Regions from separate parts of the Homo sapiens genome. Here region 2 is linked to region 1. The links come from fine-mapping of genetic effects on gene expression. A gene starts in region 1. The other region holds a variant in brackets. All regions are shown on one strand. Distances are from middle to middle.

Evidence for each region. PIP is the estimated chance that this variant, and not a neighbour inherited with it, causes the effect.
Region 2: its variant is the best candidate, but not a certain one, in a credible set for the expression of H2AC8 in whole blood (TOPMed, PIP 0.50).

Annotation. Positions count from the first base shown.
Region 1 is chr6:26,213,716-26,219,097 of GRCh38, forward strand. It overlaps H2AC8 (H2A clustered histone 8), which reads left to right and starts at 3,206. Exons shown (of 1, transcript NM_021052.4): 1 at 3,206-3,722. The coding sequence starts at 3,260. The coding sequence ends at 3,652. H2BC8 (H2B clustered histone 8) reads right to left here and starts at 2,973. Exons shown (of 1, transcript NM_003518.4): 1 at 2,485-2,973. The coding sequence starts at 2,928. The coding sequence ends at 2,548. It also overlaps the pseudogene H3C5P. RefSeq lists enhancers at 2,087-2,216, 2,267-2,356, 2,437-2,786, 2,698-3,349, 3,217-3,636 and 2 more.
Region 2 is chr6:26,144,756-26,150,137 of GRCh38, forward strand. No RefSeq gene overlaps it. Among named protein-coding and RNA genes, the nearest start is that of H1-4, 8.9 kb to the right of the region's middle. The variant G/A (reference allele first, on the strand shown) is at 2,413.

The DNA.
Region 1 (5,382 bases):
GAGAGGGGAAAACCCAAGGAGAGTGGCCCCAGAAAAAATCAATCATGCTCACTGGTTTGATCTTGAACTTGTAGCCTTCAGAATTGTGACAAAATTAATTTTTTTAAGCCACACAGTCTTTGGTAGTTTGTTTTGGCAGCCCTAGCGAACACACTTCTCAAACATTTTCATTCTGGGAATACTTTTCTCCACACCTTTTCTATGTTATGCTAGCTTTTGTACTCCACAAAGACAAACACACAGAACACAGATGCACACCCACCCCTACTGTATGTTGTAGGGGAGGAAAGAGCGTTTCCTTTTACCCATCTTATGTTCATTGGCTGGGGCCCTGAAACAAAATACAGATTAACAACAGAAAAATATACACTTTATTTTTATTTTGATTTATTTATTTATTTTTGAGACGGAGTCTTGCTCTGTCGCCCATGCTGGAGTGCAGTTGCCCGATCTTGGCTCACGGCAAGCTCCACCTCCCGGCTTCATGGCATTCTCCTGCCGCAGTCTCCCGAGTAGCTGGGACTACAGGTGCCCGCCACCACACCCGGCTAATTTTTTTCAATTTTCAGTAGAGACGGGGTTTCACCGTGTTAGCCAGGATGGTCTCGATCTCCTGACCTCGTGATCCGCCCGCCTCGGCCTCCCAAAGTGCTGGGATTACAGGCGTGAGCCGGCGTGAGCCACCGCGCCCGGCCAAGAGAAAAACATTCACATTTAATATGAAGTTTTACATGACATAAGGAAATAAGGACCTGAAGAAGGGCTTAAACCTGAGTGTGTTTGCACTAGGTTTGATGAAGAGAGTCATGCAGAAATATAACAAGACAAAAATAATATGAGCTAAGGATAATAAACAAGGAGAAATCTAGCAAGGTTTATTTGTTCAGATTCCTCGCATACTCTGCAAGACTCCCAGGAGGGTCTTAAGACCTGCTTCAGAGGAAGGTCATACGAACATTCTTGTCTATGTTGTTCTACTAATGTCTTAGAATATTTACTATGTCAAGGCGCCATACTTTGGAGTACTATGTTGTCAGAAACCTGAGGTTGCTCATGGAGTACTATGGAGTAGTGACCTTTTTTTTTTTTTTGGTCCCATTTTAGAAATTTGATTAATGAGTATAAACTAATGGTTTCTATGTTTGAGACGGAGTTTCGTTCTTGTTGTCCAGGCTGGAATGAAATGGCGGGATCTTGGCTCACTGCAACCCCCGCCTCCCGGTTTCAAGCGTTTCTCCTGCCTCAGTCTCCGAAGTAGCTGGGGTAACATAGGCATGCGCCACCACGCCCGGCTAATTTTGTTATTTTTAGTAGATACGGGGTTTCACCATGTGGGTCAGGCTGTTTTTGAACTCCTGACCTCAAGTGATCCACCAGCCTCGCCTCCCAAAATGCTGGGATTACAGGCGAGAGCCACTGCGCCCAGCCAGCCAAAACTGTAATTTTTTTTTTTTTTTTTTTTTTTTTTTTTTTATGAGATGGAATCTAGCTCTTTCGCCCAGGATGGAGTGCAGTGGCGCGATCTCTGATCACTGCAACCTCCGCCTCCCGGGTTCAAGTGACTCTCCAGCCTCAGCTTCCAGAGTAGCTGAAACTACAGGTGAGTGCCACCACGCCCGGCTAATTTTGTTTGTATTTTTTTAGTAGAGACAGGGTTTCACAGTGTTAGCCAGGATGGTCTCGACCTCCTGACCTCGTGATCCGCCCGTCTCGGCCTCCCAAAGTGATGGGATTAGAGGCGTGAGCCACCGCGCACGGCGGAAAACGAGATTTTTTAGATCAACTTTACATTGCCAATGCCCATGGTATTCCCTCCACAACAAACTCCACAAGAGTGCTCAGAAAAGTCAAACTTGTTATCAGGTGATCTTTAGGGACCCAAAGACTACTCTTCCTACCCTTTCCAGTGTTGCCCAGGCTGGAATTGCACTAGCGTATTCACATGTTCCTGCAGTCTCTAGCCCGAGAGTTTAAGCTATCCTACCACCTCAGCCTACCGAGTAAATGATAGTACAGACGCAAGCCGTCACACCTGGTTAGCTTCATTTTTTTGCAGAGACGAGTTCTATGTTGCCCAGGCAAATCTGTTAACTCCTGAGCTGAAGAAAGCCTCATGCATCGACCTCCCAAAGTGCTAGGATTACAGGATCTTGCCAACACAGAACAGGAGTATCTCCTGATCAATTTTTTTTGAGACGAAGCCTCGCCTTTGTCGCCCAGGCTAGAATGCAAAAGCGCCATGTCTTTTCACTGCAACCTTTGCTTGCTGGGTTTAAGTGATTCTCCTGCGGCAGCCTCCCGAGTCTCTGGGATGACACGCGACTGCCCCACGCCCGGCTAATATTTGTATTTTTAGTAGAAACGAGATTTAACCACGTTAGCCAAACTGGTCTCGATCCGCACGCCTCGGCCTCCCAAAGTGCTGGGATTACAAAATCGGAAAAATTATTCCCTAGAAAACGGTGAAATTCAATATTAAAGCTCTTTATGTGAGACTTGAGTGGCTCTGAAAAGAGCCTTTGAGTTTTAAAGCACCTAAGCACACATTTACTTGGAGCTTGTATACTTGGTGACAGCCTTGGTACCTTCGGACACTGCGTGCTTGGCCAGCTCTCCGGGAAGCAGCAGACGCACGGCGGTCTGGATCTCCCTGGAGGTAATGGTCGAGCGCTTGTTGTAGTGGGCCAGACGGGAAGCCTCGCCTGCGATGCGTTCGAAGATGTCGTTAACGAAGGAATTCATGATGCCCATGGCCTTGGATGAGATGCCAGTATCGGGGTGAACCTGTTTTAGCACCTTGTACACATACACGGAGTAGCTCTCCTTACGACTGCGCTTGCGCTTCTTGCCATCCTTCTTCTGCGCCTTGGTCACAGCCTTCTTGGAACCCTTCTTCGGAGCAGGAGCTGACTTAGCTGGTTCAGGCATGCTGTCAGAAAACAATAACAGCAGTGAGAATGAACGCACTTAAATAAAAGCTCGTGTCTAGAGTCTCTCCTTTTATAGGCCTTTCATGCAAATAAAGAATTCAAAATATCCAGCTCTGATTGGGCAATGTGTTAGTGACGCATACATGTAAAATAGCCTTCACCTTATTTCCTTTCTAATTGGTTGGCTCGTCAAAGAACAATTTTAACCAATCAAATTGCGCCTTTCACAATTCTACCGATGACTATAACTAGCTTCTTATTCCTCCATCGAGCCCATTCTTTTTCTTTATTCAGTGGATTGTTAGTTCTTCTGCTGTTAGGAAGCCACTATGTCTGGACGTGGAAAGCAAGGCGGCAAAGCTCGGGCAAAAGCTAAAACGCGTTCTTCCAGGGCCGGTCTTCAGTTTCCAGTTGGCCGTGTGCACCGCCTCCTCCGCAAAGGCAACTACTCCGAACGAGTCGGGGCCGGCGCTCCAGTGTACCTGGCAGCGGTGCTGGAATATCTGACGGCCGAGATCTTAGAGCTAGCTGGCAACGCGGCTCGCGACAATAAGAAGACCCGCATCATCCCGCGCCACCTGCAGCTAGCCATCCGCAACGACGAGGAGCTAAATAAGCTTCTAGGTCGCGTGACCATCGCGCAGGGCGGTGTCCTGCCCAACATCCAGGCCGTATTGCTGCCTAAGAAGACGGAGAGCCACCATAAGGCCAAGGGCAAGTGAAATGATTACTAGTCAAATCCGTCAGTGATCCCGAGTCCCAGAAACCAAAGGCTCTTTTCAGAGCCACCCACCTTTTCTGTAAAGTGCTGGAATACACATACGATGCCTGAAATCTCAATGTTCACTGTCCTAATTTTTAACGAACGCTTCTGACGTTACTGGTCAGTTCTTTATTGAAATCCTTGCTCACATTTCATGCACTAATTTATCTTACTGGTGTTTCTTTGCAGTAAAAATGCGTTTATAAAGGTATACAAGAATAGAAACCGAGGTTGTGACACCAAGGTTTCACTGCGTTATTTTGTGTATAGGTCCATGCTGTGTATACAAATTTATCATTAATACACAGGCTGTTTATTCATGTGCACTTGTCAGAAAAGGGTGAAATATTAATACAGAAACGAGAGAACAAAGAAGGATAGCTGCCCATTAGCATTTCAGGGCGGGCTTTTTAAGTTTTAAAGATGACTGCATTCCGGCTGGGCTCAGTGGCTCATGCCTGTAATCCCAACACTTTGGGAGGCCAAGGAGGGCGGATCATAGGGTCAGGAGTTCGAAATCAGCCTGCCCAACATAATGAAAGCCCGTCTCTACTAAACAAATACAAAAAGTAGCCGGGCGTGGTGGTGTGCATCTGTAGTCCCAGCAACTTGGGAGGCTGAGGCAGGAGAATCGCTTGACTCCGGGAGGCAGAGGCTGCAGTGAGCCGAGATCACGCTATTGCACTCCAGCCTGGGTAACAGAGCAAGACTACGTCTCAAAAAAAAAAAAAAAAAAAAAGACTACATTCCTCTAGTGAGAATTGTGTTTGTTGGATTTCTCTTTTCAAAAGGAGCAATTAACACAGTATTCTAAAATAAACACTAAACGAAACTAAGCAGTAACGGCCTGACGCCCTAGGTCAGACCTGTAATCCCAGCAATTTGAAAGACTAAGGCAGAAGAATCGCTTGAGCCCAGGAGATCAAGACCAGCCTGGGCAATAAAGCGAGACAGCCCCCTCACCTCCACAAAAAGTAAAAAGCCTGCCCTGCCCGGTGGCTCATGCCTATAATCCCAGCACTTTGGGAGGCCGAGATGGGCGGATCACTTGAGGTCAGGAGTTCGAGGCCAGCCTGGCCAACGTGGCAAAACCCTGTTTCTACTAAACATACAAAAAAATTAGCCAGGCATGGCGGTGGGCTCCTGAAATCCCAGCTACTCGGGAGGCTGAGGCAGGAGAATCGCTTGAACCCGGGAGGCGGGGGTTGCAGTGAGCCAAGATCATGCCATTGCACTCCAGCCTGGACAATAGAGCGAGACTCCGTCGTCTCAAAAAAAAAAAAGAAAAGAAAAGAAAAAGCCTGGCCTGGTGGCTCAGTCTGAGATCTTAGATACTTGGGAGAATTACGCGGGGAAGGATTGATTGAGCCCAGGAGTTCGAAGCTGCAGCGAGCTATGGGGGGCAAAGCAAGATCCTGTTTAGGAAAGGAAAAAAAAAAAAAAACAAAAAAAACCCAGCAGCAAAAACTTAGTTTTATGACCTAAATTTATAAATGGACTACACTGTAAAGCACAATTAATTATTCAACTTTAGTAGAAATCCAGTCACATTTCTCTGTAAAAAATCTCAAATCTAATTGGATCACACACCAGGCCCTATAAAGAGAAGTGATCTGTAAATCTGATATGAAAGGTCATGGCCTGCACCAAGCCAACCACACGGAAGTCCACTGGTGGCAGACAGCCTCC
Region 2 (5,382 bases), 69 kb before region 1:
CTGGGATTACAGGCATAAGCCACCGTGCCTGGCCATAACTGACAAAAATTAAACAGGTATATTATACTGAAAACATGTTCCTCCATTAGTAGTTCTAAGCAAACGTGCCTCCAAAGGCCAAGGAAACTGAGAGGCATAAGAAGGATGATGAAAAATCAAGAAAGAAAATTTTAATAGGGACTTATAAACAGAAGCCATGTCTTCCATGGCATGTAGACAACTTGGTGAATTTGCCTACCTGCCATTACCCCACCCCAAACCCCAGGGCTTATAGATCACAGGGAATTTGCCTAAGGGCAGGATTTATAGTAAGTATGTGTTTACAATAATATCAAGATTGTTTTGACTTAAGGGCAGGATTTATGGTAAGTACAGGGAAGTAGAAATCTTAGAGGCATTCCCAGAACTGGGATTATTTAGAAGTCAATACAGCAGATTAGCATCTAAGATTGAGTTACTTTAGTCTCCACACTAGAAATTCAGAGACTTCATGTAACAGCAACTATGATTAAAAAAAAAAAAAAAAAAAAGGCTGGTGATCACCTAGAAAATAGAATGATGAATTGTTCACTGTATCTTTTCCACAGAGCAGAACGCAGTACACAAGTGTCCCTGGGATAGAGGAGCCGATTGGTCAGGAGACCACTGCTTGATGAAAATGTCTTTTATTACAACTCTATGCACAGAAATTATCTTCTAATTTGTATCTTTGCCTCCAGACCAGAATGTAATGCAATAAACACATCTCTAATACATATATTTTTTTTTTTGAGACGGAGTCTTGCTCTGTCGCCCAGGCTGGAGTGCAGTGGCGCGATCTCAGCTCACCGGAAACTCTGCCTCCTGGGTTCACGCCATTCTCCTGCCTCAGCCTCCTGAGTAGCTGGGACTACAGGCTCCCGCCACCACGCCCGGCTAATTTTTTGTATTTTTAGTAGAGACGGTGTTTCACCTGGTTAGCCAGGATGGTCTCGATCTCCTGACCTCGTGATCCGCCCGCCTCAGCCTCCCAAAGTGCTAGGATTATAGGCGTCAGCCACCGCGCCCGGCTCTGATACAAATTTTTTAAAATTTTTATTTTTATTTATTTATTTATTTATTTATTTATTTATTTATTTATTTATTTATTATTTTTGAGACGGAGTCTCGCTCTGTCGCCCGGGCTGCAGTGCAGTGGCGCGATCTCGGCTCACTACAAGCTCCGCCTCCCAGGTTCACGCCATTCTCCTGCCTCAGCCTCCTGAGTAGCTGGGACTACAGGCGCCCACCACCGCGCCCAGCTAATTTTTTGTATTTTTAGTAGAGACGGGGTTTCACCGTGTTAGCCAGGATGGTCTCGATCTCCTGACCTTGTGATCCGCCCGCCTCGGCCTCCCAAAGTGCTGGGATTACAGGCGTGAGCCACCGCGCCCGGCCTTCTGATACAAATTTTTAATATGAAGTGTATCTTTCATTATAAATTGATAAAGTAATGGTATGGCTTATAAACCTATCTCATGTGAATTTAGGTTTGAATAATCATAGTAATAGATATTCTTACTATGTGCAAGACATTGTTATAAGCACTTCAAAAATATTGTCTACTCCTACCAACAATCCTACTAAAGTAGGTAATAGTTGTAACCGTTAAGTTTTTGCCAAGCTATATAAAAACTCCCCACATCTTGGTGGATAATAACAAGAAGGGTTATTTCAGGCCCAAATTCTATTTCTGTATGGATCAGCAATGGCTCTGCTCCATATTTTCTTCATAGACAGACCCAGGCTGAGAGAAACTGACATAAAGGGATCTCAATGCTCTTAAAGATTCTGCAGGAAAGTAGACACATGGTACTTCTACTCATATTTTATTGACCAAAGCAACTCACTTACAAAGACTTATGTGTAGTAGGAAAGAGTGTTCCTTACATGGAGAGGAATATAGTAAACCCATATCAATGGGCAAGGATATATAATACTCCCAAAAAGGGCAGTAAAATCATGGGAGCAATAGTACAATTTACTACATATTCTTATCTAAATTTTAGGCATGAGAAAATTGAGAAATAGAGTTTAGGAAGTTTCTTAAAGTCACCTAGTAAACAATACAGGATTGAGATTGAAATGGAGTGGTCTGTCTCCATAACTCTGATACCCAGACTCCAAGATGGCTCAGTAAATTCTCACCTTCTAGTATTCACAGACTTGTATATCTTGTGTATCTCACTCCCAAATTGGATAGCTCTGACCTATGAAACTAATAAATATTGTGACTCCCAAGAGGTTAAGTCATAAATGATATCATGACTTCTGTTTTGCTGTCTCTTGAATCACTCTGGAGGAAGCCAGCTGCCATATATTGAACCCTTGTGTAGCCCTACAAAAGATGTCATGTGCCAAGGAACGGAAGTCTTCTGCTAATAGCCAACATCA[G/A]CTTTCTAGCCAGGTAAGCCATCTGGGAATTTTCCAGTCCCATTCTTCAGCTTAAGTCTGCAGATGACTAAAGTCCCAGCAAATAGCTTGCCTCCAATCTCATGACAGATCCCGTGTTGAAACTACAGTTCACTCACCCTCAAATTCCTGAATCATGGAAACCATGTGACATAATGAATTTTTCCTATTATTTTAAGCCACTAAATTTTGGGACAACTTGTTATGTAGCAATAGAGTCTATACCAGAGTCAATCTGTTTAAACACTATGCCAAGCTGCCACTCCATATAAATTAGTGATCATGTGTAAACAGATAATCCTTACATTTACAAACCAGCAAATTCATTTAATATAAGGGGGATGGAAAGGAAAAAGTAAAGAGATATTGAGGAAACAATAACAGGAAGTATCATAGATAAAGAGAGAAACTGAAAAACTGAAGATACACAAGAAGGCCAAATGCAATGTGTTCATTAAACCACCTCTTCCAAAGACAGAGGCCAGAACTTTGAATAAATAGATGCTGAAGAGATTCTTTGAAAAAATGATTATAGGTTCAATGTTAAAGTGAATGGAAAGGTTGCCAATATCTCCAAAACCAATGTTTTTCACCCTGCCGCCTATAACATAGTATTTCTTCAGTATTCTGATTGCTATTCATGAAGACAATTTAGTTGGTTGTGATCAGCTTTACTGAAATTAGAGAGGGGAAGGGAGAAGAGGGGAAAGGTGAGGAAGGGAGGAGAGGAATGCCCAAACATGGTCTCCACGTGCATCTTGGCTTTCACAGACCACAGTGGCCTCAGAATCATCAAATTTCTTATGAGATAGTTTAGAGACACAAGCCTGAAGAGTCAACAAAATTAAATAGGCCAGGTTATACAACCATGAGAATGTCCATGAGGAGTAGACTAGATAAGTAAATACATGGAGCCAAATTTATAATATAGAACAGCAATGCAAATCAACAAAATTGAGCTTTCTGCATCAATATAATAAAGAGGAATGGATCCTAGTGAAGGAAAAAAAGAGCAAGGCACACAATAATACACTATGATTTCACATATATGAATTTCAGAAACAGGACAAACTGAATCATACTGTTCATGGATACATATGTACATATACCTATAAAGAAAAAAAACTAGAAAATGATTTTAATAAAAGTTCAGATAATGGAGAGAAGGAGAGTACAAAGGGAATAGTATCTGGATGTCCAGGACACTAAGCAGACATTTTTTAAAAAATAAACTTTATCATATTTTTAAGAAAAACACATTGTTTGTTTTTGTTTTTTGTTTCTTTCTTTGAGACAGAGTCTCACATTGCCACCCAGGCTGGAGTGCAGTGGCAGGATCTTGGCTCACTGCAGCCTCCACCTCCCAGGTTCAAGAGATTCTCCCACCTCAGTCTCCTGAGTAGCTGTAATCCCCACCACCATGCCCAGCTAATTTTTTTGTATTATTAGTAGAGACAGAGTTTCACCATGTTGGCCAGGCTGATCTTGAACTCCTGACCTCAAGTGATCCGCCCACCTCAGCCTCCCAAAGTGCTGGGATTACAGGCGTGAGCCACCGTGCGCAGCTCTAGAAAGATGTTGTTTGTTAAAAAAGAAATCCATGCTGACAGTAGAAATTTTGAAAACACATAAAGGTTTAGATACAATAATAAAAATAATTTGTATTTCCACCACTATGGAGACTCTCTATATCACAGTTTGGTGTTTTGCATTGTTTCTTTTTACCACCTATGAAAAGTATTCTTTTTTTTTTTTTTTTTTTTTTGAGACGGAGTCTTGCTCTGTCACCCAGGCTGCAGTGCAGTGGCGTGATCTCCGCTCACTGCAAGCTCCGACTCCTGGGTTCACGCCATTCTCCTGCCTCAGCCTCCCGAGTAGCTGGGACTACAGGTGCCCGCCACCACGCCCGGCTAATTTTTTGTATTTTTAGTAGAGACGGGGTTTCACCGTGTTAGCCAGGATGGTCTTGATCTCCTGTCCTCGTGATCCGCCCGCCTCGGCCTCCCAAAGTGCTGGGATTACAGGCGTGAGCCACCACGCCCGTCGGAAAGTATTCTAACATGGCAAAATCCTAAGAGAATTATTTTTGCAAAAAATTGTGAAAAAAAGTTGCAAATAGAGTATACAATGTTTCTTATTTTCAGCAACTGTTTTCCTGTAATGTTAATGTTTTACATAACCATATACAATGATCAGAAATAGGAAGTAGACATTGGTAAAATATTAACTAAACTTCTGACCCATTCAAATATCACACATCTTCCCCCTAATGTTCTTTTTCTGTGTCAGAATCCTATTCTGGATCCCCCACTGAATTTAGTCACTGCTTGTTTCTTAGACTCTTTAAGTCTGTATTAGTTCTGCTGTCTGTTCTTATATTTATGATGTTCACACTTCTGAAGAGTGCTGATGAGTTATTTTGAAGAATATCCCTTGATGATTGTCCTTTTTTTTCCACTGGAGTGAGTTTCTGGGTTTTTGACAGGAAATACTACCAAAATGATAAAATGTCCTTCTCAATGCAATGAGTTTATGAAACACATATGCCTTGTTGCTTTGTGATGTTTACTTTACTTAGTTAAGGTGGTGATTGCTAGGATTCTTCAATGTAAACTTACTATCTTTTCCTTTGTAGTTGATAAGGTAACTTGGAGAAACAAATCATGCGTCTTAAAATTTGCCCACTAATTTTAGCATCCATTGATGGATTTTATGTGAAACAAGATCACTATATTCTTTGCCGGCCGGGCGCGGTGGCTCAAGCCTGTAATCCCAGCACTTTGGGAGGCCGAGGCGGGCGGATCACGAGGTCAGGATATCGAGACCATCCTGGCTAACACGGTGAAACCCCGTCTCTACTAAAAATACAAAAAATTAGCCGGGCATGGTGGTGGGCACCTGTAGTCCCAGCTACTCGGGAGGCTGAGGCAGGACAATGGCGTGAAACCGGGA